6 linked regions of the Homo sapiens genome follow. The protein of the gene in region 2 purifies or fractionates together with the protein of the main gene of each other region. This does not show direct contact. Each region holds a gene or a part of one and is shown on either strand. Other genes may lie near its edges. The genes, in order: SMYD2, MYH1, RIMS1, TPM1, ATF1 and PPARA.

Region 1 (4,860 bases), on a different chromosome or scaffold from region 2:
GCACAATCACAGCTCACTGCAGCCTTGAAGTTCCGGGTTCCAGTAATTCTCCTGCCTCAGCCTCCAGAATAGCTGGGACCACAGGTGTATACCACCACACCTGGGAAATTTTTTTAATTTTTAAAATTTATTATAGAGAATGGGTCTCACTTTGTTGCCAAGGCTGGTCTCGAACTCCTGGATTCAAACAATCCTTCTGCCTTGGCCTCCCAAAGTGCTAAGATTACAGGTATGAGCCACTATGCCCAGCCAAAATTTCAGCTTTAAAAGATTTATAGTCCAGAGGCCCTGCCACCAACTTCTCTGACAGCACTGAGGAGCAAGACCTCCACAGCCTGGACATATGCCTTCTAAGCCCCACACTGCCTATTTCATTGGATCACAAGGACAAGTTCTATGGCATTTTCCTGTCCTCTTTTTAGTTTGGCCCTTCGAAGATTAGGTGTCTAATTATTATGCAATCAGCAAGAATGAACCAGACCAGGCGGAGAACAGTCAGTACGGTGGCTAAAGCAATTTCATCTTGGATGCTGATATACCATGTTGATTTCTGGTTAACTCCTGCTCTGGGAATGCTTCTAAGATTTCTACTTTGTCTATGGCTACCTTAAATCCTGCCTTAGGTCAATACAATCTTGAGCACAAATCTTGCTCTCAGGCAGATTTGCATAGCATCCTTGCCTTTCCTTGTAACTGCTGTACACATTTCTTCCCTATGGTATATAAGCCCTGGCTCTGGTGGGTAATGGTGCAGGGATCCACCATCTTGTCTTGCTGCCGCCCAAGACATAGACATGGCTTCAGTTCATAAGTCCTAGTAAATGTTTCTAATAAACTGGATTTGTCAGCTTCTTTCTTCTGTCTCTCAGCTTCCTCACTCTTTGAGCGTAAGTTTGCATAGTCCTGCCCACCACAGAATAGTCAGAGTTGGCATCACTTCTGGAGAAAGCCATTGATGACTATCATCTGTTTCCATCAAGGGCACCTCTTTCTTTCCTTCTTCTTCACTTTTTTTTTTTAACTCTCTTCCCCTCTCCCTTGCCTCTATTTCTACTTTTCCACTCTTTCTCTTCTTTGCACATGTCATAGTCAAGGCTGTTCCATCCAATTCTTTGCCTGCCTATGCACAGGCAAGAAAGGAGCCAAGAAAGAGCAGAATATTACACAGGAAAGGGGAACAGAGTACACTCTTTATGTCAGAATGGAAAGAGAGGAAAATCTCAAAGCTGCTCAGACCAATCTGGTTCCCTAGGAAGCTCTAATTATTTGAGGTCAGGCTTTTCATGTCACGTATTTCCATGTAAACCTGTCATGAAAACAGCTCAGAATTTCAGAGCTGTGGCTATGCTCCTGGTCTAGGGTAAGCAACATCCTAATTGCACAGGGCACACAACTAACTAGATTATGCCTGGAGTATTTTCCCCACCCCTGTCCATATGGATATGATAGGAAATGTAGTCTAAGGATGTTTAACGAGAGATGGTTACCAAAGGTCAGTTACTCATCTTTCTGACCTTTAAAAGAAAAACAAAATAAAATGCACTTGAACATTGTCCCATTTCCTCACCTGTTTGGCCAGAATCCTTGCTGTTAGTCTTACAGTCTCCGAGGGATTCCAGTTTTCCCCAAAAACAACCATGGGAGAACATTCCAGCTTGTGCATGGGCCAATCTTCTTTCTGGGAAGATTGAAAAAAACATTATTAAAAAATAGCACATACACTGGAATAAAGTGTGAGAGGAGAGGATGCAGTGAGTCCCCCTAGTTAAGGTCAAGTAAAATATGTTTCCTTTTGGAAAACACGAGGATGCTCACAAAAGCTAGAGATAAAAACATCCTTTAAGATAGGCAGGATTGTATGACCTTCACTCAGGCCTGGGTCAAGCTTGTTGGGATGAGAAGATCTACTTTGTGTTTTTTCCTCAAGCACCTCATGGCTTTCTGCAGCCCCTCATTATTCTAAACAACACATACATCTTTCCATCATCTGTGCAAGCTGTCAAATTGCAGAGGGAGCAATTTGAGTATCAGCCATTGATTTGGCTTTGTTGCCTCACAGTTCCGCTCTGGCTTTGTTCTCACGTCAGGGCAAATAATGGAGAGTTGACTTACACAGCAATGAGTCCCTTTTACAGGCGACTTTTTAAAAAGCACAAATGAGGGTTTCATGAAGGGCAACCACTGGAAAGATTTAGGAATAGTTAGGACTTCCCAAAGATGCACTGGATAAAACAGTAGTATTCTTTCTTTCCTTTTTTTTTTTTGAGACAGAGTCTCGCTCTGTTGCCAGGCTGCAGTGCAGTGGCGCGATCTCGACTCACTGCAACCTCTGCCTCCCGGGTTCAAGTGATTCTCCTGCCTCAGCCTCCTGAGTAGCTGAGATTACAGGTGTGTGCCACTACGCCCGGCTAATTTTTGTATTTTTAGTAGAGACGGGGTTTCAAGATGTTGGCCAGGATAGTCTTGATCTCTTAACCTCATGATCCACCTGCTTCGGCCTCCCAAAGTGCAGGGATTACAGGCGTGAGCCACCGTGCCTGGCCTAACAGTAGTATTCTTTCTATCATACGCCCTGAAGTTTCCCTGCCCCGGGTAGAGGGATGAAGGATATTTGCTGCTGGAAGGGTGGAGGCGCCATCACTTGAGATGGGGAAGGCATTGAGAGAAGGACACCATGGTGTTTTGGAGGCTGAGGGAAGCAAGTACTTTGAGGACTAGGGAGTAAATGATGATGCCAGTGCTGGAGATAGGCTTAGTGTGAGAGGACGGAGAATGTGATTTGGAATCATGGAAGCTTGATGATTTTCATAAAAACAAGTTTTGGTGGGATGATGGGGTAAGAAATGACAGGGAGCAGATTCAAGAAAAAATGAAAGGAGACACAGCTTAGAGTAGTGAAAAGTTGCGGGGGACTTTTTTTTTTTTTTAGATGGGAAATATCAGAGCACGTTGTATACTGATGGAAGCCCTTACACACTGTCTCTTTCACGATGGAATTGGGTACTGTCCTGCTCTGTCCTTGGCCTTCCCTAGCTCAGAAAATGGCCATAAATGCTCAGGGCAGGGAGGCTGACATGGGCGGATCACCCGAGGTCAGGAGTTTATGATTGGCCTGGCCAACGTGATAAAACCCCATCTCTACTAAAAATAAAAAAATTAGCCAAGTGTGGTGGCATGTGCCTGCAGTCCCAGCTACTCAGGAGGCTGAGGCAGGAGAATCGCTTGAACCCAGGAGGCAGAGGTTGCAGTGAGCCGAGAGTGCACCGCTACACTCCAGCCTGGGCAACAGTGTGAGATTCTGTCTCAAAAATAAAAATAAATGCTCAGGCCAGAAAGCTAGAGTCATCCTTGACGCTGCTCTCTCACTCACACTCCACATTCAGTCAGTTCTGGCAAATCCTCTGTCTCTGCCTGGAATCTGATCACTTCTTAGCTCCACAACCTTTCTACCCGGCTGCAGCCCCAACATCTCTCATGACTAATGTCCTGCCACTGCCTTCTAACTGGATGCCCGCTTCTGTCCTTGCTCCCATGGACTAGGTTCCAGAGAGCAGCCTGAGGGATTCTGTTGACAAAACTCGGATCAGGCCAGTCCTCAGCTCAAAACCTAATGGCTTTTCTCATCCAGGCAAAAGGCCAAGCGCTAAAGGTGACCTAGGAGGCCACACGTGATGGGAGCGTCCCTGCACCACCCCAGCCCATCATCCCCCACCGTACTCTCACCTGCCTCACTGCACTTAGCCACAGAAGTGTCCTGGCTGCGCCTGGAGCCATGTACCTGCCTCAAGGCCCTTCGCACTTGCTCTGTTTTGTGGCTAGCACTCTCCTCCCCTGGATATCCATGTGACTCCCTCCCTCCTCTCCAGCCGCTGCTGGAATGTCACCTTCTCAAGATACCTGCCACAATCACCCTGTCAGAAAGAGCACTTCCCCATCATTCTTCCTTTCCTTGCTTTCTGCTGCTTCTTAGTACTTCTCACCACCTGAGCATATTATATATTTATTAGTTGTTTGGTTTAGTATCTGTCTCTCCCCAGGAAAATAAAGAAATTTTGTTTTGTTCATAGCTGTAACCCCAGAACTGACAACAGTGCCTGGCATTTAGTAGGCACTCAATATAGTTGTTGAAGGAATGAAGATATCTCCCTACCCGCTTCCCTCCACACTGATCCCCCAAGAAGGAAGCACATAATGTCACTTAATGATTTAATGCAGTCTATGGTGCAGCCCCTTAGCTCAAGTTCTGGGCCAAGATGTTCTGCAGAGTTAAATAATGCCGCGCCAAATATAACTAAGAGCAGGGAGGAAAAGAAATGACAAGATATGCACAAGGGAGAAGAGAATCTGTTTTTAGCCAAAGCCTAAAATGAGAGCATGGTGATGAGGCGAAGAGGTGGGAACAGGTGGGTCTGTCTCCCTGCAGACTAATCAGCTCCCTCCTCAGCTGCAGAGCAAAGAGGAAAAGACAGAGATGACCCTCGGGATACCTGAGAGGATATGGGGACCTACCAGCTGGGGACAGATGGATCATTAACAACTATAGACAAATGCCCACTCTGACTCCAGCAACTCCAAGAAAACTCCAAGACATAATCTCTGTCCCTAACGGGCCTGCAAGCTGTTGTTTTCTGAACTGCAGGTGGTGCCTTGGTGTTTAGCAACTACAATGAATTCCTGGGAAGTTAAATATGAACATTTATTAATATAATTATTATTTATAAAATATCAATTTATTAATGTAGTTGATTTAAAATTAATGGTACTGTAAATACTACATAATGGTGACATTTATTGATATAAATGTCCTCAAAAGGAAGGGAATCAAACACAAGGAAAGCTCTGGGAGGAAAGCAGAGTGCT
Region 2 (4,860 bases):
GCTGTAAATTATTTTAAGAGGTTTTTATTACTTTTTAAACATTTTTCAATGAAAGAATCCTTTATACCTCCTCTTAAAATTGAAGAGAAGATAAACTCACTTAACAAACTCCATATTGACATAAGAAAACTCTGAAGTCCTTTGAATAAACAGAGGATAGATAAAGGGGTAGATATGATTTCTTGTTTATTTCAGATTACCCAGTGGCTATGTTGTTTCTATAGCCAGACAGGAAGATTTCTTGTCTGTGGCAACAGCCATATCATTTTTTTGTCTGGCTTAAACAGATACAAGGTGTTAAATGCAAGTGCTATCCCTGAAGGACAATTCATCGATAGCAAGAAGGCTTCAGAGAAGCTCCTGGGGTCCATTGACATTGACCACACCCAGTATAAATTTGGTCACACCAAGGTAATATTCTGTAAATCCTACCTGATGCTATTCCTGTCCCTTTGAACTTTATGTAAATTTTCTGATCTGAAATTCTTCCCACACATAGGTCTTTTTCAAAGCTGGTCTTCTGGGGCTCCTAGAGGAGATGCGAGATGAGAAGCTGGCCCAGCTGATTACCCGAACCCAGGCCATGTGCAGAGGGTTCTTGGCAAGAGTGGAGTACCAGAAAATGGTGGAAAGAAGGTATTAATAAGAATTCTTTACTTAACCTCATCATCTTAGGTGTTTTAATTCTGCTTCTTATTATAATCTGATTTGGACATTTCTGTTCCTATGACAGAGAGTCCATCTTCTGCATCCAGTACAATGTCCGTGCCTTCATGAATGTGAAGCACTGGCCCTGGATGAAGCTGTATTTCAAGATCAAACCCCTCCTCAAAAGTGCAGAGACAGAGAAGGAGATGGCCAACATGAAGGAAGAATTTGAGAAAACCAAAGAAGAGCTGGCTAAGACCGAGGCAAAAAGGAAAGAGCTGGAAGAAAAAATGGTTACTCTGATGCAAGAAAAAAATGACTTGCAACTCCAGGTTCAAGCTGTGAGTATCCCGAAGTCATTTCCTGCAATCTGATGCTAAAACTTCAGCTCAGTGGTCACTAAGGAGAGATCTAGATTCTACCAAATAAGGGACAGATTATGAATCTTTAATAATCCACAACTCCTTAGAATGTTCTATAGAATTCCCTATACAATATTACTAAAAATCACTGTGGTAGGATTCTTTGATGTCAAGAAGGGAAAAATAAAAGCATTTTTCCTTCCCCTCTGTTGTTTTCTACAGCAGAATGTGAACAGGAAATAAAGTGAGCTTTGCTCCCTAAATTCTCCCTACTGAAAAATGCAAATAAGAGCTGTGAAAAAGAAAAATATTGTCAGTGAAGAGGAAGGAGACTTTGATGAAAACACATTAACTTGAAATCAATATTCTGAGTTTTGTATCTACAATCCCCGAGCAACTTTGTGCTCAACTTTATTTTTAGAAACTTTTAGTACCTGAAAGAGTAGGATTATGGCAAGAATAATGGCAATGCTTTCTGTAAGGATAATGGCAATGCCTTCCACAGATAATGTCTATTTTTATGCAAAGTATGAGAGATAGGGTTGATATTCTTATTCTAATGTCCCAGTAACTATCCAGAGGCTTGGAGAGAAATATTTGATCAAAAGCCACTATCTAACCCATTTTTGTAACACAAATAACAAGACAGTTCAATTGCTGCCACCAAAACCAACAGCAGAAACATTAAAAGTTACCATCCCAGTTCTCTGAATTCAGAAAGGGAATTGACTAGTCCCATTGTGCCTACAAGTTTGGGACACATATTTAGAAAATCTAAAGTATGATGAATTGCAAATACCTAGGTTGGTACTGTGACTTTCCTGTACTTTGTATAGATCAGGGTTTTCCACATTGAGGAGTGGTTCATCGTGCCTTCAAGAAACAGGAGATAATCTATCCAAGAATACTCCTCTCCTTTGAGGATAGTATTATAAAACTTCTGTTTAACAATATTCTATCAACTATCCACTAATAAATATTGGGTGAAGTCCCGGACAGGGATGTAAGTTTGAATGAGAGACATGGTCCTTCCCTCACAGTTTATCTCAACTCCTATTTCTTCTTATGAGAAATATGCTTGCTACTTCTCTAAGCATCACCTTGAACATGTTCCATTCCCTTTGTCTACTCTGTCACTGGATGACATTTCTTCCTGTTAAGGCACTTTTCTGATAGTACCCTTCTCTCCCAGCAACCTGCTAGAAACCCAATCCTTTTGTCTATTGGTTTTTCATATATTGAATGCTCCTGAAAATAAATATTAAATAAAGAAAATTGGCTGACCCGAAATTATATACCAACATATTATATATGTTATAACAAATATAATTGTAACATAATTTCACCAGGAACTATGACTTAAGTTCCTTTTTTTATTACCGGACTCATAAGTGCCCAATATTTACTGAATGGTAGAAAGCTAATAAAAATTAACCTGAAGGCTTAAAACAATTTACTTGTTTGGTTTCAAAATATTAATAAAATCTGAAAATGTCTAGGAATTTTCATAAAATCTAAAATATCTATTGCCTCTTCTCAGGAAGCTGACAGCTTGGCTGATGCAGAGGAAAGGTGTGACCAGCTAATCAAAACCAAAATCCAGCTAGAAGCCAAAATCAAAGAGGTGACTGAGAGAGCTGAGGATGAGGAAGAGATCAATGCTGAGCTGACAGCCAAGAAGAGGAAACTGGAGGATGAATGTTCAGAACTCAAGAAAGACATTGATGACCTTGAGCTGACACTGGCCAAGGTTGAGAAGGAGAAACATGCCACAGAAAACAAGGTATCAATCATATTCTACAGTACTGTATAGAGGTTCTGCCACCCAACAAAGGTGCTTTAGAGCAACTAAGCTGCTTTCTTCACCTTTGTAGGTGAAAAACCTCACAGAAGAGATGGCGGGTCTGGATGAAACCATTGCTAAGCTGACCAAGGAGAAGAAGGCTCTCCAGGAGGCCCACCAGCAGACCCTGGATGACCTGCAGGCAGAGGAGGACAAAGTCAACACCCTGACCAAAGCTAAAATCAAACTTGAACAACAAGTGGATGATGTAAGCCTAACATTATATAAAAATGATTTTTTAAATTTTGTAACAAACTAAGTAAGCATAAGTTTGTGTCGTTATGATATAGTGAGTACTTATCAAGTGCCTCCTATGAATGAGGAATATGGAACATCATCCCTATTACAAGGTCTAAGATGTACACACAATAAAGTTTTTAAAATCAATAAAGAAAGTTAACTGTGAATAATAGACAATACGGGTAAAAAGAATTGATGGAAAGGAAGGTTAATGTGTTCACAAAGAAAAGCTATACAAGCAAAACAGGTCTTTCGCTGGGCTTGAAAGACAAGGGGCTATGTGCAAAAAGAAAGAAGAGGGAGGGTGTTCTAAGAAGGCAGCATAGCAGCAGCAAAGAAGTTGTAATGATCAATAAGGTTTTCTCTCACAGAAACAAAGGACACTCAGAATTAGGAATGTGGAAGATAAATTTGGCTTTAAACATGATCTGATATCTAATAGAGAACCCACTGAAAATGCCTGAGTAAGGGAGGCGTTAAAAAAGTTCATGGTTTGGAAGTATTAGCATGGTGTCCATCCCAGCTGGAAAAGTATTGGATTCCAGTGGGGAGATGCAGAAGGCATAATGTCTCACTAGTAACTTATTGTAACAACGTGACAAAGAGGCACATTTTACCTTTTAAACGATGACTTTTTCGACTAGGTAAATACCAAGGAGAATGGAATCAATGGGACAAATCTGCCTAATTCATAGAAAAATAGTTTGCTGCATAGATATAATGTTTAAAAATTTCATCTGGGACAAAAGGTGCTACCATTCTAAGAACCATATTCATGGATTATTAACTTTTAGCTTGAAGGATCTTTGGAACAAGAAAAGAAAATCCGGATGGATCTAGAAAGAGCAAAGAGAAAACTAGAGGGAGACCTAAAATTGGCTCAAGAATCCACAATGGATATAGAAAATGACAAACAACAACTTGATGAAAAGCTTAAAAAGTAAGCAGTTTTAGGTCAACAGTTTTGTGGGGAAATTACTCTTAATATTTCTGAGACTGACATAAAGGGCTTTTCTAATAGGAAAGAGTTTGAAATGAGCGGTCTGCAAAGCAAGATTGAAGATGAACAAGCCCTTGGTATGCAGCTGCAGAAGAAAATCAAGGAGTTACAAGTACGTTAAATGATTTTCGCCAGGCTAATTTAACATCGAAAAGTTACTGACACCAAGAAGTTGAGTTCGTATTAATATTTTTCACCATTCCCAGGCCCGCATTGAGGAGCTGGAGGAGGAAATCGAGGCAGAGCGGGCCTCCCGGGCCAAAGCAGAGAAGCAGCGCTCTGATCTCTCCCGGGAGCTGGAGGAGATCAGCGAGAGGCTGGAAGAAGCCGGTGGGGCCACCTCAGCCCAGATTGAGATGAACAAGAAGCGGGAGGCTGAGTTCCAGAAAATGCGCAGGGACCTGGAGGAGGCCACCCTACAGCATGAAGCCACGGCGGCCACCCTGAGGAAGAAGCATGCAGATAGTGTGGCCGAGCTTGGGGAGCAGATTGACAACCTGCAGCGAGTGAAGCAGAAGCTGGAGAAGGAGAAGAGTGAGATGAAGATGGAGATCGATGACCTTGCTAGTAACATGGAGACTGTCTCCAAAGCCAAGGTACAATCAACACTTCACATTGATTATTTGGTTTTTTGTTTTTCCCTTTAGCACAAATATGATTTGTATCTCAAAAACGTCTCATGAACTAAATCAGGCACCCTTTTTCTCATATCACGTATAGTACAACTTAGTAAAGTAGTTAGATTAACAAGTAATTCAGTGGCTGTA
Region 3 (4,860 bases), on a different chromosome or scaffold from region 2:
AGGGGGTTAATAGTTTTATACATAGAGGCAGCCCTTACTGCATTTGCACAAAACAGTAGAGCTAGCCTAACCCTTCCTGCCTTAAATACTAGTGCTTGCTTCTCTTCCTTACTACTAAATGTCCTTTTTGGCACTTTTTTTTTTTTCCCAGAATAAAGCACCTTGCATTAAAAACCTGTTCAGGCACATATCCTTTCTCCTCAATAATTTTCTTAATGGCATCTAGAACTCGTCTCTGCTGGTCCACAGAAGCTGCTTCTACTTTTGACATTTTTTAAAAGCCAAACCTCTTCCTTAAATGATCAAGCCATCCTTTTCCGGCATTAAATTCTCTAGCTTTAGGTCCTTGACTATCCTTCTGCTTTGTTATATGACGACTTTGCTTTTTCCTAATATTAGAGTCTATAGATACACATTTTTATAGCAATCCTGCAGCCACATAAAAGCTGCATTTTTAAGGCAAGATAAAAGTTTTTCACAAAAAGTGCACGGGTTTTGCTCCTGCTGACGTAGCTGCAGCAACAGCGTCACAAATTTCTTTTTCAACAATAGTCCTTACACTGGTTGAATTTATCTTGAAATGGTGGGCAACTGCAGCTGCAGACCTCAATCTGCGGTACACATCAAGCAATTCAACTTTTTCTTGTAATGTCATGACGTTGCTTCTTGGGAGCACTTCTAGTGTCACTAATGACACTCTGTATGGGTCTCATGGTATTATTCAAAGTTAATGGTATTGCACTAAACATCACAAAAAATACGTGAGAACCACAAGATACCACGCAATTTACTGGAGAAAGAAACTGCTCAAAGGGAGATGATAAGCATCACAGGGCATTTTAAAGTGGTGCTCGCAACACTAAAATCACTGGAAGAGGCTAAGGAAATTATTACAGTAATACAGTATGCACTACAGTTAATTTCATGCAGCTATGATTTAATACCGCATGTTTACATATTTACATTTCTTCCCACTGCAAATGGCGCCACGTAGTCTATAAGTGTGTGTTTAAGGTTTTATCATTTTTAACTTTTTATAATAGATTCATGTACATTTTATGATAGCAAATGATAAAACAGACTAGTATCTATATATATAGTATGCATTCATGACATACCTAACTTTTTCTTATTTTATTAAAATATTGCCAGGCTACCCGGTTCGTCCACAAGTTTTTAAAATTGCTGCAATTCTCAAAAAAAAAATCCAGTATATTTATTGAAAAAACATCCATATATAAGTGGACCCATGCAGTTCAAATCCGTATTGTCCAAGAATAAACTGTAATCTGTTCACAAATTGTGAGAAAGGTTAATTTGAAGTTTGAAAAAAAAAAAAACTACCTTTGCAACTGTAATATTACGTAACTGATGTGGTTTTTTTTTAATGTCTACTTCCTTTATAAGGCATAATTTTCATTTTCTAGCAAACAAATTGTTTTTCACAGAATAATAAATCCACTCTAAAATAATATCTTAAAAATATTAGACTGCATACCAAATTTACCAGAATGACAGAATGCAAAATCACCAAGAACTTTTGTAGCCTAAGTTTGGAGCTTGTTGTGTTTTAAAATCCCACAAATCAATCAATAAAATTAAATTAATAAAAATAAGACCTTCCACTGGCGGTAACGCTATCTTATCTGTGAGCATTCCCAGCCTCAATGCTGAACCCAGCAACTAGCCTAGCACCTGCACCTCTGCCCACGCCTCTTCACTTGGCTGAAGTCCCCGCACGGCCGGCGCCGCCCCCTTACCTTTCTCGCTGACGCTCTCGCTCTCCAGCTCCACGTCCTCGCAGCTGGTGTACTCGGGCGTCGACACGCCCTCCTCCTCAGAGCTGCTCACCGACATCTGCCGCTTCTTGCCGCCTCTCTTGGACCGGTGCGGCTTGGGCGGGGACGGCCGCACCGACTCGGACTGGTCTGAGCTCAAAGAGTCGTTCCGCAGCATGGTCTCCACCTTCTCGCGCTTGGCCTTCCGCATGAGGACCGCCGAGCTGGGGTCCAGGCGGCTCTGCTTCCTGAGGGGCTCCTGGGCTTTGAGCTCCGGGGCTTCTGCGGGAACCGGCCCATGTCTGGGCGCCGGCGGGCTGTGGTTCGTTAGCTGCTTGGCGCCCGGCGCCCTGGTCTCCGCAGTTCTCTCAGCCGAGTAAGCCCGCGGCGAGTCCGGCGGCGAGGCCCTGGCTGCCGCCGGCGCGCGTTTGCCGGCCTTGCCCTCCGGCAGCGCCGCGCCCGCCTCGGTGCGCGGGAGCGCCACGTCGCTGTGGCGCCGCTCGTGCCTGGCGCGGGACACCCGGGCGTGCATGCGCATCTGCTGCTCCTCAGGCGGCGGTTTCACCGGGTACCGAGCTAGGTTCGGGTCGCTGCGGTACCTGGTCTGATAATCCTCCTCTTTTCTTTGCTTTTCCTCATCCGCCGCTTTGCCCTCATCCCGTTTTTCCGGCGTGTCTGGGTAATCCTGTGATCGCCCTTTCTCAAGCCTTCGGCTTTCCCGCCTTTCTTTGCGCTCCCGTTCTTCGACGGCCCCCTCCACGGGCTGCGCTGAGGTCTTTGGCACGCGTTTCCGCTCGCTCTTCAGGGCTCCTTTGCCATTCTGCTCGGAAAGCCCTGGGGTCTTCTTTCTATGATATACAAAGGAACGTCAAGGAGAGCAATTTATAAAGACTAGACATAAAAAACATGTTTTCTTCTCATTCCAGTCTTAAATCATTTCAGTTACAATAATTAGTTATAGGGATTTGGATCTGAAGGTGGAACTGTAAGGGTGTTGGAATTTTACAAGGTAAGGGATCTAATGGGAACACATATTAATTATTACCAAATATAGTTTTCATAAGAGTGTCATGCTTGTACTACATTTAGCAGCTCATTGAAGCATAGTTGCTCTTGTTAGAAGTTTACATTGAATCAATTTACTTTTCTTGAAATGCTGAAAAATACTTACCTTGCAAGGTTCATGTGAGGATTAGAGACACCATCTGTGAAGATGTTTTATGAAAGGGTAGAGTGTCATGCAAATGGAAGGAGTTCTCCAGTGTCTCTGATTCTTTGCTCTACTAATTATACTTTTTCTCATCTCTACCTTTAATTTTCTGTTTCTAACTCCTTGACAGTACAAAATACGGTCAAGAATTCTTCAGTAATTTAAAACAAATAAACAGTGTCTCTTTCAATCTTGCTTCTCCCTGAAGTTGCCCAGCTCTTTACACTGGCCACCTCTCTTCCTGCTTCTGTACTTCCCAATTCCTCATTGCTTTCCTGTGAATTTATATCATTAGTAAAGTTATTTGTCCCTATCAATCTTCTTCAAATTTTAACTAAAAAGTCAGAACAAAAAGTATCTATTCAGCCCTTGTTCTTGAAATTTTTATAGTTTTTCACTATATGTCAAAAACAGAACTCTTTTCTCTTTAGAAACTTTACAGCTCCAAATTCTCTATCTTATTTAAAGATATCATCTTCCAACCAGTTCCAAACTGCAGCTTCAGTATTTTTGTCTCTTCTTCTCCCACAACAATTTGTCACCAAATGCTATTAATTCTACGTTCCCTGAGATATCTCTGGTGTCCTTTCTATCCTTTCTCCAAATAGCTTAGTAACACTCATTCTCTTGTACTGCCCTCTTATACGCTGTGTAGCTCCCCTACAACTCCTGAGTATCTTACAAAGCTTAATTGAGAAGTCACTTCCTCTTTCCTAGGGCTCTCAAAATACTATACATATTGCCTAGCTTTGATCAAATTAGCATCCTTGTTAATTACCTAGGTGTCTGTCTTCCCTAGAATAGTGTGTGGTCTCTTCCCTAGGATTTGTCAGAAAAGGGACCATGTATGTTCTAATCATCTTTATGCCCTCTGGTTCCTGGCACAGTGTTTATCTGTAGTAAATACACAATGACTACTGGCTTGAATAATAGCTACATTCACTGAAAGCCTACTATGTGCCAGCTTGGGAACACATGTTCTCTTTTAATACCTGCCACAACCCTGCAAGTGAGTTTTTACTGCCTATTGTGGCAGAGCCAGGACTAGAATCCAGACCTATTTAACTTTGAAGTCCTTGATCTTTTACTGTATGGGCTTTGCTTGAAAAGGGGTTCAAAAGCTTTCCTTGGAGCCTCCTTTCTCCAAGTAATGGTTACACATACAAAAACAATAAGCCCAGTCTAGGTGCTAACAAAAGTCCTGGCCCCAAAATCATGAGCCTCATGAAGATAAGGGCTCTGTCTTCTTTGTCAACACTTTTTCCCAGTGCATAGCTTCATGTTTGCCCATGAATACATTTTTGAATGAATCAATCAAAGTAAATAATCTGATCATATTCGTCCCTGTTTAAATATTCAGTGGCTTCCCTTTCACCTACAATAAAAGCTATAAAATGTAACCTGTCCCTTCACCACCTCACCAGCCTTTTCTCCTCCACATTGCCTCTGCTACTTGCACTGTAGCCAGCAGCTATCCTTTAGGAGGCCCTCACGTTGGGCTTGTTCCTTCAGGCCATGTGCCTGTGCAGATACCTGGAGCACCCATCCTTCCCTTCTCCTGGTTAATTTCAAAGTCACTCTTTAGAGCTCAGCATAAAAGAAATACCCTTAAAGAAGGCTTCTCTGATGTGTCCACATACTTTCTGATAGGTCAGATTCCCCCATCACATCCTCTCAGAGCACACTTTTAATTAAAGGGCTAGGTTTATAAGTGAAACATGATCTAAGAGCTTTTCTGAGTTCATCATTGGAAGTTGGTAGCTCAGCTGGGTGACTTAGTTCATGTTTACATCTGTGCATGATATGAAAGAAATGCTTTCAACAAAGGTCTCCTAAGGAATACATTCTAGAGATAGACAACGCCCCTCAGGC
Region 4 (4,860 bases), on a different chromosome or scaffold from region 2:
TTTTTGCTTCCGCTTTGAGTCTCCCCCCCACCCTCAAAAGGAATAGAATTTTACTGGAAAATGAAAATATAGAAAAGTGAAGAAATCTTACCTGACCCAAAAGTATATCCTTAATATATACATCCTTCCAGTAATAGTAATAAAAAAAAAAAGCCTAATGGTTTTTAAAAGACACTTCCCTATAATTGAGAGATTTGTTATCCTATTACCCTCACCCTTCAATACACACACACACCAGAAACAACAGTCATCTGCCAGTAATTCCTAGCTGGGTCCATTTACCAGCTGTGCACTGATAATGATTTACTTTGTAGGCAGTACAGTTGTAAATGCTCTTCCTCTGATTTATTTCACATTTGCCCTGCTCCCTGCCTCCATCAACCAATTACTACATTTTTGTCAAGATAAAAGTGTATTTACATGTTTTTATAGAGTCCTTCACCGTGGTTGGAGATGCCCTACTCACCTCTCTTCCCAGATAAAACTTGGCATTTAAAATCTTACAAATCTAGGTGAGCAAAGAGCTGAAGGTTCTCAGATTCCTTTGATTAAAGACTATGACCACAGTTTCTAACTACATTTGCATTTCCAACTCTGTATTGTGGATCCATAAGCTGAGAACGTTGCTTTTATTAAAATTAGGTTGGTTTTACTCATCTTACTGAGCCCATACTCTGTGCAGAGAACTGTGAGTTCTCTGGATGTGAGCAGCTTACAGTTCAATGACAAAGACAGGGCTGTGTGTAGAGAAATTTGTTATCCTATTACCATGGGTCCCTAAGTGTGTATTGTAATTTCTAGAAAACTCCTAAGTGTTCTGAAAACCCCACCACCCCTTAGTGAACATACATTCAAAGTGGATGAGGATATTTTACCTGATTAGTAAATTCCATCTCCCACTTCCATGCACAATATTTAAACAGCCACCAGTGCAAGTGTGTATAATGGACCATCATAGTCTTATAAGTGTTCTGAGGCTCATAGCAACAATTTCTTATGACAGGAAAAAAATCATTGCCTCTCAAAGAAACCAACATTTTATTTCAGTGACAGATACCAAGTAAAAACAGTACTTGTATTATTTTTCTTTTTAGGAGTTTGATACTTTTCTTGTATTAACCTTGACTTCAAAGAAAAATCATAGGCTTACATCAAAAACACTTGGGAAATTTGTCTTGGCTCTGTTCCAATGAGGCCAGTTATTCTAAAAGGGGTTACTGGATTGTGTTGGGCCTTCATGTGGTGTGTATTTTAGAACCACTGAATTTTAAACTATTTAAGTTCCTTTGTAAGGATCCTATGATAAAGTGGCTTGAAGGAAAGAGTTGAGTGAAACTCTTGAGTCCGATTTCTGGCTGTACTGCTATTGTCTTACATGGCTGAGCCTGGGTAAGTCTTGTCTCAGTTCACACTTCAGGCCCCCAGTGAGTGAGGTGGCCGTGATGACGCTCTTGTTTAACAGGCAAGTAAAGCCAGGGTGTTGAACTCTACGGAAGTGGGCCGGGCGCAGTGGCTCACGCCTGTAATCCCAGCACTTTGAGAGGCCAAGGCAGGTGGATAAGGAGGTCAGGAGATTGAGACCATCCTGGCTAACACGGTGAAACCCCGTCTCTACTAAAAATACAAAAAAATTAGCCGGGCGTTGTGGCGGGCGCCTGTAGTCCCAACTACTCGGGAGGCTGAGGCAGGAGAATGGCGTGAATCCAGGAGGCGGAGTTTGCAGTGAGCTGAGATCGTGCCACTGCACCCCAGCCTGGGTGATAGAGCGAGACCCTGTCTCAAAAACAAAACAAAACAAAACAAAAAAATCTACGGAAGAAAGGAACCATGTGAAAGAGCGTTTGCTAATGATCTGTCTGTCTGATGAGAATTGTGTGTATAGATTTGTGTATACACAAATATGGATGTTCACTGTATAAATCAATGTGTAAATGTGTCCGAGAACTCCAGAGTTGATGAGGGCTTGTAATGCACTTAAAGGTAGCTCACCACAAGACAGTCTTCCTATCTGAAATCAGCATTGCAGTCCCAGCCATTTCCTGAAGCTACCACCCTCACTTTCTCCCCAACTCTGAAATGCTTTTCACTCTCTACCTAGGCTGAAGCCGACGTAGCTTCTCTGAACAGACGCATCCAGCTGGTTGAGGAAGAGTTGGATCGTGCCCAGGAGCGTCTGGCAACAGCTTTGCAGAAGCTGGAGGAAGCTGAGAAGGCAGCAGATGAGAGTGAGAGGTGAGAATGCCTCATCAGCCATCTTTTGCAGCTGCCTTTCCTGGTGGAATAAACCGGAGGGCTCCTGTGATCTTTGAGGTTTAAGAATTTTTCAGTCCCCTGGTGGTGGGATCATTTCCTCTATTGATCCCAGGTATAACTCGGTTGGTTTTGTTCATTTAGCATTAGTGAAACACCTACTATGTCCAAAGCACTGTCCTAAGCCCTAAGGTTACAAAGAAGAAGATGATCTTGTTCCTGCCCTTACAGAACTCACCATCTAATGAGGGAGACAGACATGTAAAGGAGAAATGTCAGGGATACAAGTTGGCCCTTTCACTCCTACTGACCACAGAGCAATTGTGCATTTTTTAAAGTGTAACTTTATTTTATAATATACAAGGAGGCTTAGGTGTAAATAAAGGAACTGTGGACTATCAGTTGTCAAAATAGCTTAACAAATAGGTGGAAGAAAAAACACAAAGCAGAAACATGGTCTGCAAAAGTAAAATATTTTGGACTTGGTCTTAGTAATATACACAACACACATGCACACAAATAGTCAGATGCTCGTGTGTTCTGAGCCCACCTCCACTGTAATCTGGCTGTAGCTGAATTATTACTCAGATTCAGCTTTGTGGTAGTAAAGGAAAGCATGGTTCGTATAGACCAGCACAGCCTTGTGTGGTCTAAAAGGCATTTTCCCTTAAGCTCAACTGTTGGAAGTAAGGATTTGCCATATTGCATAGAAGTACTTCAAGAGAGACTCCATGAGGTGAGAGAGCGTTCTGCCGCTTGAGGGATGGCATAGCATGAAGGGGCTCAGAGCACTGAATGTGTATCTGTCTGTGCTGTGACCTGGGCAAGTGAATGCAGTCAGTCATCTTGTCCATTTCTTACTCTTTGAAGTGACCCTACCACTAGGTACCAGGTATAAAGAGTGATTTCAGACTTTAGGATTAAAGAAGATTTTTAGCTAAACTTTTTAGGCCATTATTCACCGCTGCTTAGTGTTTCTTCGCTAACCAAGCATTTTGGACTTCTTTAAGATGACTAAGCATCTTACAGTGTACGCATAAGAGCAGTTTTGTGGCTGACTTCTTTCTGAAATATACTTGTTAGTGTACCTTAAAGGCAGTCTGGTAATGTTAGACTTCGGAGTAAAGGGGACTTGGGGATCATTTAGTCCCTTAGTTTTACAAATGAGAAAAGTAGGGCTCAGAGGCTGATGTGACTTGCACCAAGGCTCACAGCATATTTGTGGCTAAGCCAAGACTCCGACCCAGATCTCCTCAACTGTATTCCAATGCTTCATCAAAAGATAGTGGGCCAGATGTGGTGGCTCACACCTGTAATCCCAGCACTTTAGGGGGCCGAGGCGGGCAGATCACTTGAGGCCAGGGATTCGAGACCAGCCTGGCTAACGTGGCATAACCCCTAAATCTACTAAAAAATAGAAAACTTAGCCAGGCGTGGTGGTGCACACCTGTAATCCCAGCTACTCGGGAGGCTGAGGCAGAAGAATCGCTTGAACCCAGTAGGTGGAGGTTGCAGTGAGCCAAGATCACACCACCGCACTCCAACCTGGGTGACAGAGCGAGACTCTGTCTCAAAAAATAAAAATAAAAAAATAGTGGTTCACTTATACTGCCTACTTAAATTTTGATAAATGAATTCCATTTTACATGACTTGTTATTCCATATATCTGTAAAATATCATAGGTCATTTAGTATTTTTCTGAAACATTACACCACGCTATAGGACCCTAATATACACCATGCCATAGGACCCTAATACACTCAGTGTAGAGGACAGTGTCAGGCCTGTCTCCCAGCATTGCTGTCATGAAAGGGTTCCATTATAGGTAAAACTTAATTTGATGCATTCAGTTGAACCATAAGAAATTGCCATTATTACTTGTCTGAAATGGTCAAATATCAGCATTCTTTGTGGACTTAATAGTTTATTAAATCTAACATTAAGTCTAATATTTTTGTTTATGGGTGGCAGGGTAAGAAGATTCTTTGTAGAAAGAGGTATATAAAGATAAGTTTGATTTTGTTCTAGCTTTGGTTCATGTGCAAGCTGAGGCTTCCCACAGGAAAGGCAAGAAATCTCATTATCTTTTTAATAGTAAAGCATATTGGCTTTTCCGGTTTCATACTGCCAAGATTCAGACAGATTCCTGACGTGGTACCTTTCGTCATCATTAATGTTAGATGCCTGATAGTTTCATCAGTACTCAAAGTGAGAGAGTTCATTCACAGTGAACAGAGAGAAATGTGTCTCTTTTTTCCACCTTTAGCTCTGGAAATTGTTGTTTCCTGGTTTGGAAAATAAAAGTAGCTCTGTGCTCTATTTTGGTCTACCACTTACACTAAGCCTCACAAGCCACAGCAGTGCAGTGTGCATTTGGGAAGTTCAGCTCTAAATCTTGGGTTTTCTTGCTTGTCTTTCTTTTCAGAGGCATGAAAGTCATTGAGAGTCGAGCCCAAAAAGATGAAGAAAAAATGGAAATTCAGGAGATCCAACTGAAAGAGGCCAAGCACATTGCTGAAGATGCCGACCGCAAATATGAAGAGGTCAGATCCTGGGGCCCAAAGCCTTGTGGACACCCAGCAGTGGCCTTCAGGAAGCCAGGGAGCAAT
Region 5 (4,860 bases), on a different chromosome or scaffold from region 2:
ATCTCATAAACAACAGTACATACTGTTTTACTGATGTTATCAGAATGTAACCTTTATTTGTTCACTTTTTTAAAGCTATTATTTCTAAAATTAAGGTTAAGATTAACAATGTGTTAAAAACTTGTTCAATACAGAATAAATTTTATATGTACGAATGCATTTTCTGTAAAAATAAAGTAAGCCCCCAGTTAGCATATATAAGCTTAACAGGAGATAACCCAAAGTCAGGCAGAAACAAGGGAGTAGTGAAACACCGCTTCAAAAGCACCATCAATGGGAATAGAAGGAACTGAGAAATGGTGGGCTGAGATCTTGCTGACATAGAGAGAATGTCAGGGAAGGCAGGGCCCTTTTAAGAAAACTTGCAGCCGGGCGCGGTGGCTCACGCCTGTAATCCCAACACTTTGGGAGGCCGAGGTGGGTGAAACACCTGAGGTCAGGAGTTCAAGACCAGCCTGGCCAACATGGAGAAACCCCGTCTCTACTAAATATAAAAAAGAAATTAGCCAGGCATGGTGGCACATGCCTGTAATTCCAGCTACTCGGGAGGCTGAGGCAGGAGAATTGCTTGAACCCAGGAAGCAAAGGTTGCAGTGAGCTGAGATAGTGCCAATGCACTCCAGCCTGGGCAACAAGAGTGAAACTCCATCTCCAAAAAAAGAAAAAAGAAAAGAAAACTTGCAAAGAAAGAAACATTATATGTTAGGCAATAAACTAAGAGCTTTTTAAGCTCAACATTACTGATCATTAGAGAAATGTAAATCAAAACCGCAATGAGATACCATCTCACGTCAGTCAAATGGCGATTACCGGCCTGGCATGGTGACTCACACCTGTAATCCTAGCGCTTTGGGAGATCGAGGCGGGCAGATCACTTGAGGTCAGGAGCTTGAGACCAGCCTGGCCAATATGGCAAAACCCCATTTCTACTAAAAATACAAAAATTAGCCAGGCGTGGTGGTGGGCACCTGTAGTCCCAGCTACTTGGAAGGCTGAGGCAGGAGAATCGCCTGAACCCAGGAGGCGGAAACGATGCAGTGAACAGAAATTGCACCACTGCACTCCAACGTGGGCAAGAGAGCAAGACTCAGTCTCAAGAAAAAAAAAAATAGCTGGCATCGTGGGTGACTGTGGTCCCAGCTACTTGGGAGGCTGCCCAGGAGGCGGAGGTTGTAGTGAGCCAAGATTGTGCCACTGCACTCTAACCTGGGCAATAGAATGAGACTTTGTCTCGAAAAAAAAAAAAAAAAAAAAAAGAATGGCAATTAAAAAGTCAACAGTTGGCGAGGTTTGGAGAATAAGGAATGCTTTTACGTTGTTGGTGGGAGTGTAAATTAGTTCAACCATTGTGGAAGACAGTGCAGCAATTTCTCAAAGACCTACAGGTAGAAATACCATTTGACCCAGCAATACCATTATTGGTATATACCCAAAGGAATATAAATCATTCTATTATAAAGATACATGCCCACATATGTTCACTGCAGCACTATTCACAATAGCAAAGACATGCAATCAACCCATATGCCCATCAATGAGAGACTGGATAAAGAACATGTACATATATATCATGGAATACTATGCAGCCATAAAAAGGAAAGAGATAATGTCCTCTGCAGGGTCATGGATGGAGCTGGAAGCTGTTATCCTCAGCAAACTAACAAAGGAACAGAACATCAAACACTGCATGTTCTCACTTATAAGTAGGAGCTGAATGGTGAGAACACGGGGACACATGGTGGGAGAACAACACACACTGGGGCCTGTGGAGGAGGGTGCGGTGGGGGAAGGGAGAGCATCAGGAAGAACAGCTAATGGATGCTGCGCTTAATACCTAGGTGATGGGTTGTTCTGTGCAGCAAACCATCATGGCACATGTTTACCTATGCAGTAAACCTGCACATCCTGTGCATGTACCCTGGAACTTAAAAGTTGAAGGGAAAAAAAAAGGCTAGGCGCACTCCAGCCTGGGTAACAAAGTGAGACACCCGTCTCTTAAAATAAAAGAGAGAGAGAGAGAGAGAAAAATATATTTAGACAGTTACCTCACCCCAGCTTTAGAAATGGGACAACTTGGCCAGGCACAGTGGGTCACACCTGTAATCCCAGAACTTTGGGAGGCCGAGGTGGGTGGATCACTTGAGGTCAGGAGTTCGAGACCAACCTGACCAACATGGTGAAACTCGGTCTCTACTAAAACTACAAAATTAGCCAGGGGTGGTGGCACATGCCTATAATCCCAGCTACTTGGGAGGCTGAGGAAGGAGAATCGCTTAAATCCAGGAGGCGTAGGTTGCGGTGAGCCGAGACCATGCCATTGCACTCCAGCCTGGGCAACAACAGTGAAACTCCATCTCAAAAAAGAAAAAAAAAAAAAAAAAAGGAATGGAGCAATTCAGGCACAACAAAACTTGCAAAAATATAGCCAAGTGCGATGGCTCATTCCTGTAATCCCAGCACTTTGGGAGACACTTTGTACCCTTAAGCGATAGGATCGCTTGAGCCCAGGAGTTTGAGACCAATCTGAGCAACACAGTGAGACGCTATTGTTACAGGACAGGGTCCCAATCCAGACCCCAACAGAGGGTTCTTGGATCTCGCACAAGAAATAATGGGTCAAGTCCACAGTGTGAAGTAAAAGCAAGTTTATTAAGAAAGTAAAGGAATAAAAGAACGGCTACTCCATAGACAGAGCAGCCCCGAGGGCTGCTGGTTGTCCATTTTTATGGTTATTTGTCGATGATATGCTAAACAAGGGGTGGATTTTTCATGCCTCCCCTTTTTAAACCATACAGGGTAACTTCCTGACTTTGCCATGGCATTTGTGAACTGTCATGGCGCTGGTGGGAGCACAGCAGTGACGACGACCAGAGGTCACTCTCGTGGCCATTTTGGTTTTGGTGGGTTTTGGCCGGCTCCTTTACTGCAACTGTTTTATCATCAAGGTCTTTATGACCTGTATTTTGTGCTGACCTCCTATCTCATCCCGTGACTTAGAATGCCTTAATCATCTGGGAATGCAGGCCAGTAGGTTTTAGCCTCATTTTACCCAGCCTGTTTAAGATGGAGTTGCTCTGGTTCATACGCCTCTGACATTTCCCCCCGTCTAAGAGAACCCTTAATCCTAAGGGTTGCAGAGGGACGAAGATCCATCTTCTATAACTTCTTCAGGCTAAATAGGGCAATGATATTCCTGCCTGCCTATGAGGGTCTCTTGCATTCAGGGTAAAAAGGAGCTCAGTCAGAAAGCATCAGTATGGTAAGGTTCATTCATAACTCAAGTTTCAACAAAAGGTGGTATCTGGAAAATTAGTAAGAAAACGTTCAGTAAGCTTGTCCTGTATTCCTACACAAAAAGTATAACAGCAATATATTCCACAAGAGTAAAGCAAAATAGGCTGGGTACAGTGGCTCACACCTGTAATCCAGCACTTTGGGAGGCCGAGGCAGGTGGATTACCTGAGGTCAGGAGTTCGAGGCCAGCCTGGCCAACATGGTGAAACCCTATCTCTACTAAAAATATAAAAGTCAGCTGGGCGTTGTGATGTGTGCCTGTAATTCTAGCTACTTGGGAGGCTGAGGCAGGAGAATCACTTGAACCCAGGAGGCGGAGGCTGCAGTGAGCCAAGATGGTGTCACTGCAGTCCAGCCTGGGCGACAGAACAAGACTCTGTCTCAAAAAGAAAGAAAGAAAAAAAAAAGAGTAAAGCAAAATAAGTAAAGTTATTCCAAATAAACTAAATTAGAAGACTTTTCATGAACCAGGCAACCACTGGAACTAAGCTGATATCGGGTTGTTAGCTGATTGTAATGTGCCCAGAATCAGAATACTGATCCAGATTTTTAAATTACCCATCCCTCTTATTTCTTCTGAGCAACAATTAGAGATTACTGGTTGGTTTACAAGAATACGCAGGGTTAGCCTAAATTGCAGAAACAAACTTAAAAACAATTAATGAGACCAGAATTTAATAACAAGTGTACCATAGTTTTTGAAACATAGTATTTCTCTCTCCAGTTTCCCATTTTTACTAAAGACAAATTATGGTAAGACTGACTTGCTTTATTATACTTGGCCTGATTGTTTGTATAAAGTGCAGCAAGAATAATAATTTTTCACATAGGCTTTTTAATTGGCTTTGATGGAACTCTGTTTCATAAGGAATCTCAGATAAGACTTTTTTAAAAGCCAAGCCCTGACATGGGTTTGTACCCTTAAATACCTATAACTTGGGTAAATTTCTCTCCTTTTGAGGTCCCAAGATAACTTGGGGCTCCTGGACAGGTGAGAAAGTGACATTCTTTACTTACCATAGGTCAGAAACCCTGTACAGGCACTGTGTAGGCAAGGTATGAGGCCAGTTCCCCAAAGGGCTTTTATTGGCTCTACAAGTCAAGTTTGATTCCTTAAAGAAAAGCACACCATTTCAGTCAAAGCCTTGGTAAAATAACCACTTTCTCCAATTGTATTCTGTTACAAAAGAAAACAGATTCTTATTGCACTTATGCAAATAATTACATTGCCATAAGTTAAGAATACTCACAACTAGTTTCCAAATTCTGGAGAAATCTGATATAGAGAAACAAATATGTTCCAAATTTCGTTCACAGCAGTATACTTTACTCAATTGCTATGAACTGTAAATAGCTCAAATGAAAAGTTTCCTTGACTCTGAAAAACAAAACAAAGGATCAGCAACATTTTAATCAAAGATTACTTCAGTTTTCTATTGGTTCAGTTGATTCAATTAACTCATGTTTCATTTGATATTCATGAACATTCTAGCTCTTCATGAGTTCTGAAAGTTGTTTCCTCTATTCTAATGTTACAATTTCCAAAGTTATTAGAAACCTGCATTT
Region 6 (4,860 bases), on a different chromosome or scaffold from region 2:
CAGGAAGAGTCAACATTCACACCAGATGACCTGCCTGGGGTAGCTGGCACTAGACATCCTGGGACAGTCTCAAAGCATGAGACCTGATTCTTGGTCCAGAAAATACTGCCCTGAGCCATGTTCAGCAGGCGGTGCTCCCTTACAGACCCAGTCATTACTATGATTCTTAACAGGGTTGCTAGTGATGAGGATTTAAACATCTTCATTGTTTTTGGTTGTAAATGTAATTATTAAGTTTTTATTTCTAAAATTCTTGTTTTTGTATTGTTTTAGTGATGGGGTCTTGCTCTGTTGCTTAGGCTGGACTGGAACTCCTAGGCTCAAGCAATCCTCCTGCCTCGGCCTCCAGAGTGGCTGGGGCTATAACTATTAAGTCTCTAAAGAGAGGAATTATTGCCGGGTGCAGTGGCTCATGCCTGTAATCCCAGCACTTTGGGAGGCCGAGGTGGGTGGGTCACCCGGGGTCAGGAGTTTGAGACCAGCCTGGCCAATATGGTGAAACCCCATCTTTACTAAAAATACAAAAATTAGCCAGGTGTGCTGGCATGTTCCTGTAATCTCAGCTACTCAGGAGGCTGAGGCAGGCGAATCACTTGAACCCAGGAGGCGGAAGTTGCAGTGACCTGAGATCGTGCCACTGCACTCCAGCCAGGGTGACAGACGGAGACTCTGTCTCAAAAAAAAAAAAAAGGAGGAATCTTTTGAAAAATAGAAATCCCCCCTCATAATTTTAATCCCACCATAATAGGTTTAACATATATCTCACTGGACATTTTTCTATATACATAGGATTGATATAGGATTATAATTTCCTTTATAAAACTGTGATCATGCTACATATAAATAGTTCTGCAACTGCATTTTACCCACAATGCTACATCCTGACCATACTAAAGGACAAATTATGCATAACTGCTTTGTCTTTGTACACTTTATGCCAGAGCGCAAGGACTTCCTTCATCTGACTTGTGCCCAGCCACACAGTAACGGGCACGGCTGGTAGGGCTGAGTCAGCTCCATGCTGACAGTGAGTCAATCCCCCAGGCGCAGTATGGCTGCAGGCAGTGTGGGAGACCCCATCTGTCTCCACCAACCCTGGGTAAGGTCAGCCGAGTTTGCAGTAGGTGGATGACCTTCCTAGACCTGAGATGGGGCTATTTAAAGGAACGTGACACCGAGCCAAAAATGTGGAGGCTGCAGAGCCAGCTTCCACAGAGAGGACCAGATCGGCCTTCCCTGGGATCTGCTTCCTCGGGCAAAGCAAACCTTGCAGTCACTGCCACTTGGCTGCTGACTGATATTATATTTTGCATTAGGAAATATACTTTTCATCAACATAACCAACTGTGACAGCAACTATACTGACATCTGTATAGCACTTCATACAATATTGTCTATAATATGAATACAACATCATTATATAATATATACAGGAATATCATAATATATAAATTATATCTGTTTATAATATTAGATATAATATAAACGAAATGTGTGTGTGTGTGTGTGTGTATAATTTTTTTTTTTTTTTTTTTTGAGACAGGGTCATTCTTCGTCGCCCAGGCTGGAGTGTGGTGGCGTGACCTTGGCTCACTGCAACCTTTGTCTCCTGGGCTTAAGTGATCCTCCCACCTCAGCCTCTCAAGTAGCTGGGACTACAGGTACATGCCACCATACTTGACTAATTTTTTCTATTTTTTTTTTTGTAGAGACGGGGTCTTGCCATGTTGCCCAGGCTGGTCTCAACCTCCTGGGCTCAAGTGATCCACCCACCTCAGCCTCCCAAAGGGCTGGGATTACAGGCCCATGTCCGACCTCTTTTTCTCTATATATATATTTGTGCAAAATATATAATTTTTTTTTAAAGAAATAGGTCTTGTTCTGTTGCCCAGGCTAGAGTGCAGTGGTGCATTCATAACTCATTGCAACCTGAACTCCTGGGCTCAAGAGATCCTTTTGCCTCAGTCTACTGAGTAAGTAGCTGGGACTAAAGGTGTGCACCCCCACACCTGGCTAATATTATGATTAAAATGTCATACATTTACATAATATTAAATATGTATTTATAGATAATAACAATATATACTATAATATTATACAATATTGTTATAATTCCCACTGAATTCTCAGCAGTGACTGGGGGTCAGACGTCTTCCCACCATGTGAGTGTCCCCTCCACTGGAACAGCTCAGGCTGGTACTGGATTTCCCATTGTCAAATTTTTCAAGACAGGAGCCTGTCAGTGACATGATACCAGCAGATTAAATCAACCACTCACCTCCACAGCAAATGATAGCAGCCACAAAAAGGGAGATATCACTGTCATCCAGTTCCAGTGCATTGAACTTCATGGCAAAATCAAACTTGGGTTCCATGATATCACAGAACGGTTTCCTTAGGCTTTTTAGGAATTCACGAGTTATAAACCCATTTCCATACGCTACCAGCATCCCGTCTTTGTTCATCACAGAAGACAGCATGGCGAATATGGCCTCATAAACTCCGTATTTTAGCAATGTCACTTGATCGTTCAGGTCCAAGTTTGCGAAGCCTGGGATGGCCTTGGCGAATTCCGTGAGCTCCGTGACGGTCTCCACTGACGTGCACTGGCAGCAGTGAAAGATGCGGACCTCCGCCTCCTTGTTCTGGATGCCATTGGCCACCAGCTTGGCCACCAGCGTCTTCTCAGCCATACACAGTGTCTCCATATCATGTATGACAAAAGGCTACAAAGGAGGACACCAAGGTAAGTCAGGTGATGTGGGATGCGCTATGCTCCCAGCTATCAGCTCACTAATGAGCAGCTCCTGCGTCCAAATCACCAAGCTCAGTGCCTCAGAGGACTCAAGATACCCGCGGAACATAGTCCTTACTCAACTTCAAAATCGGTTGGGGAAAATAAGACATTAATAGAGAACAAACAGTATAAATCAGTAAAATAATAATAGTCATCGCCTGACATTGGGTGGATTTCATCGCTAAGAAACTGAAGTACTGGGCTGGGCATGGTGGCTCACGCCTGTAATCCCAGAACTTTGGGAGGCTGAGGTGGGTGGTTTACCTGAGGTCAAGAGTTCGAGACCAGCCTGGCCAGCATGGTGAAACCCCGTCTCTACTAAAAATACAAAAAAATTAGCTGGGTGTGGTGGCGGGCGCCTGTAGTCCCAGCTACTCGGGAGGCTGAGGCAGGAGAATGGCGTGAACCCAGGAGGCAGAGCTTGCAGTGAGCCGACATTGCGCCACTGCACTCCAGCCTGGGTGACAGAGCGAGACTCCGTCTCAAAAAAAAAAAAAAAATTAGCCAGGCATAGTGTGTGCCTGTAACCCCAGCTACTCGGGAGGCTGAGGCAGGAGAATCGCTTGAACCTGGGAGGTGGACGTTGCAGTGAGCCAAGATCGTGCCACTGCACTCCAGTCTCCAGTCTGGGCGACAGAGCGAGAGTAAGACTCCGTCTCAAAAAAAAAAGAAACAAGAAACTGAAGTACTGATTTTGTCAAAACAAAACTAACGAGGACATTAGCAAAGCACCTTTAATATTCTTAAATATTCTCTGAACTAATGACTATTGCAAGAGGCTTAATTACGATCATTCTTAATTTTACCAGTATATGCACTTTAGGGGTGAACACCATTATTTAACGCTGCTCAATGAATACATTTGGCATGTAAATACATACAACTCAGAAAGGTGGCATCTATGTAGAAATCGGCAAACAAGCGTTGTGAAACTCTTTAGGGATAAAGTGGAAAAGCCTCGGAATGCCCTTGTTTCTCTCAGTGCAGGAAACTGAAACCTTCACTCGGTGCTCCATATTCTGGAGCAAGTGCCAACTCCCCACAGCCGTGCCTTGTGTGCTCCCATGCCATCTGCATGTAAACCCAGTGGCCTGCCATTTCCTGAAGATCTCGTGGTGGAAGAGGTGGCTGGCCATATTATTTGAAGCCAACATGCTCAGAAGGGATTACATGTGTGGGAGAGCCGGGGAAAATGAGCACAAACACTGCTGTTGGCTGAAATTTACATCTGCGGGTAGAGCAGGAAAGTGACAACATCTGAGAGATCTCTCTGATTATAATGTGGTCCACAGCTCATGCAGACACAGGTCAATAATGCAGTGGGCTAAGGTGTTATTTCTTTTTTTTTTGAGACAGAGTTTTGCTCTTGTTGCCCAGGCTGGAGTGCAATGGCACAATCTCGGCTCACTGCAACCTCGGCCTCCCAGGTTCAAGCGATTCTCCCGCCTCAGCCTTCTGAGTAGCTGGGATTACAGGCATGCGCCACCACGCCCAGCTAATTTTGTATTTTTAGTAGAGACGGGGTTACACCATGTTGGTCAGGCTGGTGTCGCACTCCTGACCTCAGGTAATCTGCCCACCTCAGCCTCCCAAAGTGCTGGGATTACAGGGGTGAGCCACCGCGCCCGGCCTACAGCGTTATTTCTAATCACTGCTGGAACAGTGGAGCCCAAAGCGCAGAAGCATCCCAGGATTTAAAGAATGCCCCCTGCCAGTGGGCAAAACACAACCACTGACAATGCTTCTGACACACAGCCTGAAGTGTTTCCTGTTTCTGGACTCACAGCACAAAACTGTCTTCAGGGCACCGGTGGAGGTGCCGATAACCATCACACAGATGGTATGGAATGTTTCAACAGAACCAGGACTTGCAACATAATGCTGGACAAAAAGCCCTGATTCTGCATCTGAGGAAAGGGGATATTTAAAAAATTACTCACAAATGAGTGAAAACATTCTGAATACAATATTCAGAGCCAAGTTTCTAAATAATCTCAAGTCCGATTAATAAAGACTGAAAATGATCTCTCTCCAAGACCTTAAAAACAGTTCTGACCATTGTT

Evidence for each region.
Region 1: the proteins of MYH1 (region 2) and SMYD2 purify together in Homo sapiens (co-immunoprecipitation; one large-scale study listed by IntAct). This does not show direct contact.
Region 3: the proteins of MYH1 (region 2) and RIMS1 fractionate together in Homo sapiens (co-fractionation; one large-scale study listed by BioGRID). This does not show direct contact.
Region 4: the proteins of MYH1 (region 2) and TPM1 fractionate together in Homo sapiens (co-fractionation; one large-scale study listed by BioGRID). This does not show direct contact.
Region 5: the proteins of MYH1 (region 2) and ATF1 purify together in Homo sapiens (co-immunoprecipitation; one large-scale study listed by IntAct). This does not show direct contact.
Region 6: the proteins of MYH1 (region 2) and PPARA purify together in Homo sapiens (co-immunoprecipitation; one large-scale study listed by IntAct). This does not show direct contact.

The regions. Positions count from the first base shown.
Region 1 is NC_000001.11:214,311,580-214,316,439, reverse strand, and holds part of SMYD2 (N-lysine methyltransferase SMYD2), read right to left. Parts: intron 1,679-4,860; coding exon 1,568-1,678; intron 1-1,567. UniProt on the Homo sapiens protein: Protein-lysine N-methyltransferase that methylates both histones and non-histone proteins, including p53/TP53 and RB1. Specifically trimethylates histone H3 'Lys-4' (H3K4me3) in vivo. The activity requires interaction with HSP90alpha.
Region 2 is NC_000017.11:10,500,939-10,505,798, reverse strand, and holds part of MYH1 (myosin-1), read left to right. Parts: intron 1-287; coding exon 288-411; intron 412-499; coding exon 500-636; intron 637-733; coding exon 734-989; intron 990-2,550; coding exon 2,551-2,793; intron 2,794-2,884; coding exon 2,885-3,061; intron 3,062-3,887; coding exon 3,888-4,033; intron 4,034-4,114; coding exon 4,115-4,205; intron 4,206-4,299; coding exon 4,300-4,689; intron 4,690-4,860. UniProt on the Homo sapiens protein: Required for normal hearing. It plays a role in cochlear amplification of auditory stimuli, likely through the positive regulation of prestin (SLC26A5) activity and outer hair cell (OHC) electromotility.
Region 3 is NC_000006.12:72,180,050-72,184,909, reverse strand, and holds part of RIMS1 (regulating synaptic membrane exocytosis protein 1), read right to left. Parts: intron 2,627-4,860; coding exon 1,761-2,626; intron 1-1,760. UniProt on the Homo sapiens protein: Rab effector involved in exocytosis. May act as scaffold protein that regulates neurotransmitter release at the active zone.
Region 4 is NC_000015.10:63,054,887-63,059,746, forward strand, and holds part of TPM1 (tropomyosin alpha-1 chain), read left to right. Parts: intron 1-2,098; coding exon 2,099-2,232; intron 2,233-4,676; coding exon 4,677-4,794; intron 4,795-4,860. UniProt on the Homo sapiens protein: Binds to actin filaments in muscle and non-muscle cells. Plays a central role, in association with the troponin complex, in the calcium dependent regulation of vertebrate striated muscle contraction.
Region 5 is NC_000012.12:50,769,841-50,774,700, reverse strand, and holds part of ATF1 (cyclic AMP-dependent transcription factor ATF-1), read right to left. Parts: intron 1,253-4,860; exon of another isoform or gene 1-1,252.
Region 6 is NC_000022.11:46,229,658-46,234,517, reverse strand, and holds part of PPARA (peroxisome proliferator-activated receptor alpha), read right to left. Parts: intron 2,727-4,860; coding exon 2,279-2,726; intron 1-2,278. UniProt on the Homo sapiens protein: Ligand-activated transcription factor. Key regulator of lipid metabolism. Activated by the endogenous ligand 1-palmitoyl-2-oleoyl-sn-glycerol-3-phosphocholine (16:0/18:1-GPC). Activated by oleylethanolamide, a naturally occurring lipid that regulates satiety.